Linked DNA regions of Homo sapiens: regions 1 and 3 are each reported to be linked to region 2. Evidence: microRNA targets listed by miRTarBase, many of them from high-throughput screens and not tested one by one. Region 2 holds a microRNA gene; each other region holds the end of a gene's coding sequence.
What was found. The annotated mature microRNA hsa-miR-608 reads AGGGGUGGUGUUGGGACAGCUCCGU and lies in region 2 at 1,289-1,313, shown strand. An mRNA with a match to its seed (bases 2 to 7 or 8) in the 3' UTR can be bound and repressed. Matches are read on the target gene's strand: a 7mer-m8 pairs with bases 2 to 8, a 7mer-A1 pairs with bases 2 to 7 and ends in A, and an 8mer does both.

Region 1 (3,249 bases), not on the chromosome of region 2:
GACATCAGTACTTCCTGGGGGCTTTTTTTTTTTTTTTTTGAGACGGAGTCTCACTCTGTCACCAAGGCTGGAGTGCAGTGGTGTGATGTCAGCTCACTGCAACTTCCACCTCCTGGGTTCAGGCGATTCTCATACCTCAGCCTCCTGTGTAGCTGGGATTACAGGCATGTGCCACCACACCTAATTTTTGTATTTTTAGTAGAGACGGGGTTTCACTATGTTGGCCAGGCTGGTCTTGAAATTCAGGTGATCCACCCGCCTTGGCCTCCCGAAGTGCTGGGATTATAGGCGTGAGCCACCACACCTGGCCCCCGGGGGGCTATTTTTAAAGCACTTTTCTAAAGTACATGGCTGATCTAGGCAGGCATCTTGGAAACTACTCTGCGTTGACTTGGGCATTGTCTATTTCTTCCTCTGCTGCCCTCGCCAGACCCTGCGGGAGATTGTGATTGGCGTCCTGCACCAATTGAAAAACCAGCTTTACTGACCGGTTCTTGGAAACCTGGAGAACAGCCAACAAGAGGCCCTTGAATCTCTACGTGGCCACTGAACTGCTGGGCCCGGGAGACTGGACTACAACACCTCACACTGGTCAGCTGGTTTCTACTTGGTGTTTGGTTTTTCCCAGCCCCATTTTATCTTCAGCGGAGCCGCGGTGTTTGTTTTGTGAAAGCTTCTGATTAATTTATTATATTGACGATAAAACTCAAACCTACCCAGCCTTCCCCCCACTCCATGGAAGTCCTTGGGATGGGCGTCTGCTCTGGACACCCCAAAGAGCTCCTGCCCTCTCAGCCCTTTATTCAAGCCTCAGATTTCTGCTCATGATCTACATAGATTTGGAAACTGTTTTCCTCTGTTTTGGTCTCTTGGGCAACATTTTTGGCCCAAGTTTGGGCAACATTTGGCCCAAGTTTGGGCATTTTGGCAGTAGCTGTATGGGAGAAAAAGAGTAAGAGGAAATATTCCCACAGCCATGAAGGGTGAAAGGGCACCTTGTGCCTAGACTAGGGCTGCCTGGTCAGTCCCAGGTGAGGCCAAGGGCTTTCTGGCCATCTCAGGGAGGGGCCACCAGGTTCCTCCCCTCACCCCATATTCCATCACCTTCCTCCTCTGCTCTGGGTGGTAAGGGAAGCCCTCCCGGTTCCCACAGGCTATGATGCTGCATGGCAGAGGCAGGTATAACACAGCACTACATATTGGAAATTTTTTATTTTTCTAAATACCAATGCAGTTTTGCTACGGTTACAATTTTGAAATATTAACTGAGCCTCAAAATCACCCTTTCTGTCAAGCATATCTTGGCCTCTCCCATGTCTCAGTGTTGCCTGCATTTCTCCCAGGACTTGGGGGTGGGGTGAAAAGCGTACAAAAGATACTTAAAAGGGCTCCTGGGGTACACAAGCCCAGCAGGTCCTGAGTGAAGCCGTGGGCCCTCCAAATGCTCGTTTTATAGCAACCTCTCTCTACCCTAGTTCTCCAAATTCACTTCTGCCTTCCTCAGGTTTGATATCTGGCAGGTTTGACTATCCAGAGGAAATTAAATATTTTTATATAAAATTAAATTATAATAAATATTGCCAAATGCTTTCCTTTAGCATTGTTCCAAGTCTAAATGTTAACCTCAAGCTACTGCAATTTAGACAATGAAATGGGCTGGGTCTACCCCCAGCCACCAGCCCTCATCCTCTCTACCCAGTGCTCTGGTTTATGCTTGTCTCCTGACTGCTCTGCTTAAAGGTGAAAGTAGCAGGAACAACAACAAAAGCCAACCAAAAACAAGGTAGCCAGTGCAAGACATCTCACTCTTCTGACATCCTGCAGTCCCCACCAGTCCTGACCGTGGGCCCCTCAGGGGTCTGGGAGTGTGACGTTGTAATCTTCATCCGTCTCTATCCCAACTTCCTCCTGTGAGACAGGGAGACAAGTGAATGAGATGTCACCAGGATAAGACCACAGGGAAGCAAAGAAGGAAGAGAGCTCCACTTACAAAGAACTGCTTCTTGCTCTTGGGGTATCCTTCAAGTATTGCATCAGACAGCTCTGTAGCCTGACAAGAAATAAAACCACCCGTTTTCAGATGGGCAGCACTGGGCACTGCCTGTCAGTTTATGATATTGTGTAGCGGCTGATCTGGTGCCTGCCATTTTCAAAGGCACCTCCAGGGCCTGTCTCGGAGCTCCCACACACTTACCATCCTCTTCCTCTTCCTCCACTCCTTACAGTACTTCTGCCTCTCTCTGTACACCTAGAAGGAAAAAGCAAGTTCCTCTAACTCCTCAGAACCACAGCAGCCCTCTGGGGCTCAGCCCTGATGTTCACTCTGGACCTGCACAGCGGTCCTACAGCCTTCCAGCTCACCTGCTCTTTCTCTTCTGGAGTCACATGATTGGTAGCTGCTTTAATGTTCTTCAATCTCTCTCTGTAGCCAGCGCATTCCTTCTTTAACTCCTGGATTTCTTTCTGCATCTCTGGTGTGGTCAGGGCACTAGATAATTCCTTGAGCTCTGAAACCACATCCGCCTGGGGTCACTTGCTACCCCTGAGGAAGGAGTTCTGTCTTTCCCAGTGGGTGCTCCCTGAGGTGTTCCACCTTGCTCTGGATCTATCATCTCACATGGAAACTAAGCCATACAGGATTATTTATTCTTCTAATTTTCTTTCCTCCTCCATCTACAAGTGGCGTGGGTGTGAGGTTGAACACTTACTTAGGCGTAGCCAGTTAAAGAAGCAGGAATAAAGGGAAACGTGGGGACAGTGTACTGATAATCGTGGCAGGGAGAACAAATGCGTATCTTGTCCATTTGTTGGTACACAAAAGCCGTTAGTTATCCTACATTTCTTTTTATGCCTAAGGGAGCCCAGCAAAGGGGTCTTAGCTGCAACAAGATGCTGCAGTCATTGAACCATTCATTTAGTAATTCCTGACCTCTAGAATGAACCTAAGCCTATGGGCACTTTGGAGGGGCTACCCAGTCCTACCAGCCTCCATGTAGCGGCAGCTCTGCTGCAAGCTCTGCACCTTAGCAGTGAGGGCCACGATTTTGCCATCTAGGACTTGAAGGTCAGCATCACTCACCATGTCAAACTGGTCCTGCCAGACAAAGAGGGAAAATACAAGTGAACTGTTGTGAGGCACAAAGATGGGAACACACACCTGGGAAGGCACCATTTGGATATGCTCAGGAACCAGCCACACCCCAAAGTCTCCAGAGGGTCTGCAGAAATAGTGGGAGAGTACTTTTGAGA
Region 2 (3,249 bases):
TCAATCTCAGCAACCACAGTAAACATTGTAAGTATTGCCAGAGTGGCAAGCCATGGGCACAGCATTTTTTTTTTTTTCTTTTTTTGAGGTCGGATCTCACTCTGTCATCCAGGTTGGAGTACAGTGACATGATCATAGCTCCCTGTGGCCTTAAACTCCTGGGCTCAGGGGATCCTTCCACTTCAGCCTCCTGAGTAGCTAGGACCACGGGCACATGCCACGCCCAGCTAAGTGTTTTATTTTTTGTAGAAACAGGGTCTTGCTATGTTGCCCAGGCTGGTCTTGAACTCCTGGCCTCAAGCAGTCCCCCTACCTTAGCCTCCCAAAGTGCTGGGATTACAGATGTAAGCCATTGCCCCCGGCATCTGGGCACAGTACTTCTAATTCAACCATCTGGTGGCCTACTAGTTTGTCCCGCAGTGGCATCTTCATCTCCTCTGGGATCCCAAATAATCAAAATGGCAATAAGTAGGCTGAACGCGGTGGCTCACATCTGTAATCCCAACACTTTGGGAGGCTGAGGGTAGGAGGACAACTTGAGTCCAGGAGTTCAAGATCAGCCTTGGCAACACAGCGAGATCTGTCTACAAAAAAAATACAAAAATTAGCCAAGTATGCTGGCGTGCACCTGTAGTCCCAGCTACTTGGGAAGCTGAGTGGGAGTATCACTTGGGCCTGGGAGGTTGAGGCTGCGTGAGCTATAATTAAGCCACACATTCCAGCCTGGATGACAGAGCAAAACCCTGTCTCAAAAAAACAAACCAACAAAAAACAGTAAGTAACCTCTACAGATGCTTACTTACGATGGGTTACTTACCAATAAAACCATCATAATAAATTGAACCATTGTTAAGTCAGCAACTATCTACAGCAAGTGATGATTTAGCTATTATCTCAGTTAATTCTAAAATAACCCTATGAAATAGTATTATCCTGCATTTTGCAGATGAGAAAAATGAGTCTTTGGTCAAGGAATAGGTCAAATACCCAGTATTCCATGGACAGGCATTAATGAAGCATCAGCCCTTTCCAGCTAAAGAATAGGGTGTCTCCAGGGGTCCCATGTCTGGCTAGGTAATGGCTCCATCTGGAGAGCTTTTACAAAATAAACGGCCCTGGGCTGGGCATGGTGGGTCACACTTGTAATCTCAACACTTTGGGAGGCCAAGGCAGGAGGATCACTTGAGCCCAGGAGTTCGAGGCCAGCCTGGACAATATAATGAGACTCTATCTCTAATAAAAAATAATTAAAAAAAAATTCCCAAGATCCACTGGGCCAAGGTGGGCCAGGGGTGGTGTTGGGACAGCTCCGTTTAAAAAGGCATCTCCAAGAGCTTCCATCAAAGGCTGCCTCTTGGTGCAGCACAGGTAGAAAATGGGGCTGGGGAGGCAGATGGAACCAGGTCATGGAAGGCCACAGATGCCCAGCTGGGAGTTTGGGTTTTATTCTGTGACAGTGAACACCCTCAGAATTTGATACTTTAGAGGCTCTAACTTTAATGTATCACCCAGGTATATTATAAATGCAGATGCTAAACTTAGTAGGTCTGGGGAAGGGCCCAAGAGTCTGCAATTCTAACAAGCTCCCAAGTGAAGTTGATGCTGCTGGTCCCCAGACCACACTTTGGATAGCAAGGCTTTATAGAACAGTTCCCAAAGCATGTTCTGAGGAACATTAATTTTCAAAGGAGGGGTTTAAATGTCAAATGAGTTTGGGAAACACTACATGCCCAGTCCCACAATGCACAGCAACATCCTTCAGGCTCTAGGAAGTAAGCCCAGTAAAGATAGGTTTCACCTGTGGTTTCCAAAGTTATTTGACCAGAGAATTCCTCCCTACCCCCCTTTAAAAAATGTAAACATCCGCTGGGCACGGTGGCTCAGGCCTGTAATCCCAGCACCTTGGGAGGCCGAGGCGGGTGGATCATGAGGTCAAGAGATCGAGACCAGCCTGGCCAACATGGTGAAACCCTGTGTCTACTAAAAATACAAAAATTAGCCCGGCATGGTGATGCACATCCATGCGAGTAGTAGTCCCAGTCACATCACCATGGTGTTGAGAGTAGTAGTCCCAGCTACTCGGGAGGCTGAGGCAGGAGAATCTCTTGAACCCGGGAGGCGGAGGTTGCAGTGAGCTGAGATCATGCACTGCACTCCAACCTAGCGGCAGAGCAAGACTCCGTCTCAAAAAAAATAAAATTAAAAAAATAAATAAACATCTTGGGGAAACATCACTTTAGGAATATTTATCTGGCCCCAGGCACTGGATGGATGAAAATAGGGTGAGTCTGGAGGCAGGAAAAGCAGTGAGGAGGCTGGGGGCATCATTTGGGTCAGAGGAAGGGGCCTGAGCAGGCTTATGGAGACGGGGGACAGATGGTAGTGGCTTGTACCAGGTGAGGGAGCAGGAGGAGACACAAAGAGGCCTGTATGGATTTAAACCCTGGGTAACAGGCAAGAGGAGGAATCATTAACGTGGCAAAGGAGTCAAGAGGCTGGCAGCTGAGGGCATTTGACAGGCAGAGAAGACCAGTGTGGCTGGAGTAGGGTGAGTGAGACCAGAGGAATGGGCAGAGTCCCATCACACAGGGCTAGGAGCATGTGGGACTCTATATTCAGGTCACTGATGAGCCGATACAGTGGTGTGATCCACTTGACTTTTTTTCAGACATGGTCTCACTCTGTTGCCCAGGCTGGAGTGCAGTGGTTCACTGCAGCCTCGACCTCCTGGGCTCAAACAATTCTCTTGCCTAAGCCTCCCAAGTAGCTAGGACTACAGGTGCATGCCACCACATAGAGATGAGGTCTTGCTATATTGTCCAGGCTGGTCTTGGACTCCTGGGCTCCAGTGATCCTCCCACCTCAGCCTCCCAAAGTGCTGGGATTACAGGTGTGAGCCACCACACCTGGCTAGGTTTACATTTTTAGAATATCCCTTGGAAAGTGGTTGGAGAGTAGCAAAAGTGTGTTGTTTGGTAAAATATCTCTGGAAGGAAACTTCAGACAATAGTAACAGCAGTCTTCTTGGCAGGCAACCTGGGAGACAGGGATAAATGGGAGACTCCCTGTTTATAACATACCCCTTTGTACTTTCTAAGTTTTATACTATGTACATGTATTCATTGACTGAATAAATAGCTTTATAAAGTCGTTTTTATAAAAGAGAAGGTTGGGAGGAGCTATCAGGTAGCAACTGCAGATGTCTAAGGAAGAGGTCATGGTGGTCATTTGGACTGGGTGCTGGTGGTG
Region 3 (3,249 bases), not on the chromosome of region 2:
CCAGGAGCTGGTGGTGAACTCCTTGGAACTCCTCAAATCACACTCCACAGGCACTGCCTATGGGTGAATTGGCCTGGCTAGGGAGACAGATCCTCCCCTGCCCTCCCCTAAACCTACCATCTGCCTTTCTCAGATGCTGGAGAACTTCAGAGTTGAAATCCAACACCTCAGCGATGTGGGCACCACATTCAACCTCATTCTGATGCCTGAAAAGCCCATCTCCTTCACCTTCTGGCCCTTTAACCAGGAAGCAACCCAGCAGTGATCAGAGAGGATGGCCTGCAGCCACATGGGAGGAAGGCCCAGGGGTGGGGCCCATGGGGTCTCTGCATCTTCAGTCGTCTGTCCCAAGTCCTGCTCCTTTCTGCCCAGCCTGCTCAGCAGGTTGAATGGGTTCTCAGTGGTCACCTTCCTCAGCTCAGCTGGGCCACTCCTCTTCACCCACCCCATGGAGACAATAAACAGCTGAACCATGTGGTGTCTTGCGTTCCATCAGACTCATTAGGTGTTCATCACTCCCGTGGAGATGCTTCCTGTGTTAAAGCAGGATCTGGGCATGCTCAGGAGACCCCAGGTAGCCACACTTGAAGCCACCTCTGCTGGGACCCCCTCACCCATGGCAGTTCAGGAGCCAGCAGAATCAACTCCAGGCTCCCTGGGGCAAGGGGTGAGGCAGAGTGGGGCAGAGGAGGGGAGGCAACTGCTACTGTGCCAGGAGCTACAGAAGCATCAGGCAGAAGGACAAAGGAGAACTGGGGAGTTCTGTGGGTGGCCCCAAGAAGTGTGGGCCAGTACTGCCTTTCTGAGTGGACCTGCCCCACAGGGGTAAGGCTCGCACAGGGCTCTGCTTGGGTGAACTCTGGGTGGGAGTTCCCTGTGGGGCATGAGGACTTCCTGCCAAGGCCCAGCCAGAGTCCTGGGCATGGCAAAGGCCGAGAACTGTGGGTGAGAACCCCTGCTACTGAAGGGCTGGTGTGAGGTGGCTGACTGGGGATGAGAGGCCAGCCTGCTTCCTTTACCATTCCCGGGCCTCCTCTGGGCTTGCTCCAGGCCTCGTGTTCTTGCTCTGGGGGCTTGCGCCCCCTTGTCCAAGGGTGGGAGGTGGGGATACTATTCTGCAGCAGAGCCGCTGGTTTGTCATTTGGACTGAATGACACTGGTCTCGACTTCCGCCCCCTAATCCCTTGGGGTCTCCCAACTCCTGACCTGATTCCTCTTGGCCCTCGGCTATCCAAGTCTAAGTCCTGCAGGCAGGTGGGGGAGCTAGTCCAGCTGAGGCCAGTGGTCCAGCTGGCCTGGCCTCTCCTGCCCGAAGCTGTGGGATCTGGATCCACTCTTGGAGCCCTTCTGCTTTCCCCACCACAAAATCCTCTTCCCTGTTGTCTTTGTCTTTCCTTCCTGTGTCCTTTTTCTTCTCTGGTCCTGAGTCAGCTTTGACTCAGAAATGTTATAGCTGGAAAGAGGCTTACAGCCAATGAGGTCAAGCTCTACATGGAATAGATGGGGAAACTGAAGTCCAGAGAGGTTGCTTGGGTCCCTTGAGGTCACACAGCCTGTTTGCCCCCAGAACCTGGGCCTCCTGACTCCCTGTAGGTGCCTCCTTTCCCCTGGCCCAATCTGCTCTCCTGCCCCGGCTACATTTGGACACATCATTGCCAGCTCAGCCTAGTGGCTTAATGGAGTATTTCACAATGATACGTGACTGCCACAGGAAGGCTTCAAGCCTCCAAGTCTTTCCCTTTCCAAGAGACAGACAAACCAAACTTGAAAGAAGGAATATCAGACATGATAGATGTTTTGGGGCAGATGAAAAGGACAAGCCTCCCTCGTATTTCCCAACAGAGCTGGTCTCTGGTGGCCTTGCTTCTTCTCCGGGTCTGGAAGGGGCCCGTCTCCCTGGCCCCTGCTTTGGAAGGCCTCTTCTCTCCACCCTCCTGGGTCCACTGTGGCCCTTGGCTTTCCAAAGATGCTGGCTCCTGGGGCAGGCGGGAGGCTGTAAGGCTGCAGCAGAAGACCCAGGCCCAGGCCCAGAGTGAGGTCTAGGAGGAGGAAGCAGGGCCCCCAGGCTGCCCTGCTCCAGGAAAGAGGAAAATGCTCACAGAGCTACAACATTTAATAACGTCATTTTTAGGGGGCGGTGATGAGACTCCCCAGCACACAGGGAAGGAGGCCTGCTCTGGGGCTCAGGTCTGCTGAGAGTTAGCGGTCTCCTTCTGGGGGCTCAAGGGCTTGTTGAGCTTAGAGTCTGAGCTGGGCAGCAGGGGCTCCAGCTCTGAGGGCTGCTTGAGGTCCATGGAGTGGGTGAGGGCACTCTGTGGTGTGCAAAGCGGGGTGCGTGAGTACCCCCCATTCCCAGGGGGTGACCTGCTCAAGGGCATATTGCCTGACAAACCAGGCCTCAGAGTATCCAGAATCCAGTGGGCCATGACCTGGCAAAGATTTCTAAACCCATTTTGCCACAGCAGGTGACACCTAATTTCTCCAAGGGTCCCCAGGGCTCAGGTGAGTGTGCAAAGGTTGCCTTTGTTCCTTGCCTGTTCCCTCATCCTTTCCAGGCCTTTCCCAGGAGCCGCTGCTGAGCTTCTGGCCACGGGCAAAGCACAGCTGGCTCAAGAGCAGGAGAAGTCAGGGTCTTTGCTTTGCGGGGCTGGGCGGTCCCGGGGTTGAACTTGAGGGGCAGTTGTGAGCAGGCCTGTTTGTTCTCGGGAAGTTGGCAAAGTGGAGCCTACATCGTGGCCATCTGAGAAGGGTGTGCTAATTTGAGAATCTTAGGCTCTATGGATTCAGGGGGGTAGGGCCACAAGCTACTCTGCCCATGAGCGCAGCCAGTCCTAAAGCACAGTGTCAGGGCATCCTGGAGATGCCTGCATGGACCCCTCATCCACAGTCATCTCCTTGAGTTTCACAGCACCCCATGGGGGAAAGGGTAGTTTTGGCAGGGGTTTTCTGTTCCCCTTAGACAGGTGGGGGAATTAAGACCGAGCCTTCGGTTGGTAATGGAGCAGGAATGGGAGCCTAGGACTCCTGACCCCCAGCCCTGGAGTTGGCTCCACAATGGCTTTTCTCAGGGCCCAGTGACTTTGGGGGTGCGGTGGCTTCCTGCTCCACCACCTGAACCCCTGGGAGCTACTCCAGGGGGGTCACTCACAGGCTGTTCTATGATGATGGAGTTCGAGGGGTGCCTGAAACCTTTTTCTTGCTCCTGCAGCCGTGTGGCCAGATCCTGCTTCTCTCGTCCCCAGCGTCGAG

Region 1: the mRNA of MLX is a reported target of hsa-miR-608. Seed matches in the 3' UTR shown: 7mer-A1 at 769-775 and 7mer-A1 at 1,087-1,093.
Region 3: the mRNA of CYP11A1 is a reported target of hsa-miR-608. Seed matches in the 3' UTR shown: 8mer at 442-449.

What each region holds. Positions count from the first base shown.
Region 1 is chr17:42,571,117-42,574,365 of GRCh38, forward strand. It overlaps MLX (MAX dimerization protein MLX), which reads left to right. Exons shown (of 8, transcript NM_198204.2): 8 at 431-2,087. The coding sequence ends at 487. PSMC3IP (PSMC3 interacting protein) reads right to left here. Exons shown (of 8, transcript NM_016556.4): 4 at 2,983-3,094; 5 at 2,362-2,507; 6 at 2,195-2,248; 7 at 1,991-2,050; 8 at 1,194-1,908. The coding sequence ends at 1,852. Among named protein-coding and RNA genes, the nearest start is that of PSMC3IP, 5.0 kb to the right of the region's middle.
Region 2 is chr10:100,973,712-100,976,960 of GRCh38, forward strand. MIR608 (microRNA 608) reads left to right here and starts at 1,274; the gene lies at 1,274-1,373. The region is part of intron 4 of SEMA4G (semaphorin 4G); the gene reads left to right.
Region 3 is chr15:74,334,988-74,338,236 of GRCh38, reverse strand. It overlaps CYP11A1 (cytochrome P450 family 11 subfamily A member 1), which reads left to right. Exons shown (of 9, transcript NM_000781.3): 9 at 134-475. The coding sequence ends at 265. It overlaps CCDC33 (coiled-coil domain containing 33), which reads right to left. Exons shown (of 19, transcript NM_025055.5): 18 at 3,149-3,249; 19 at 2,096-2,312. The coding sequence ends at 2,184. Among named protein-coding and RNA genes, the nearest start is that of CCDC33-AS1, 17 kb to the right of the region's middle.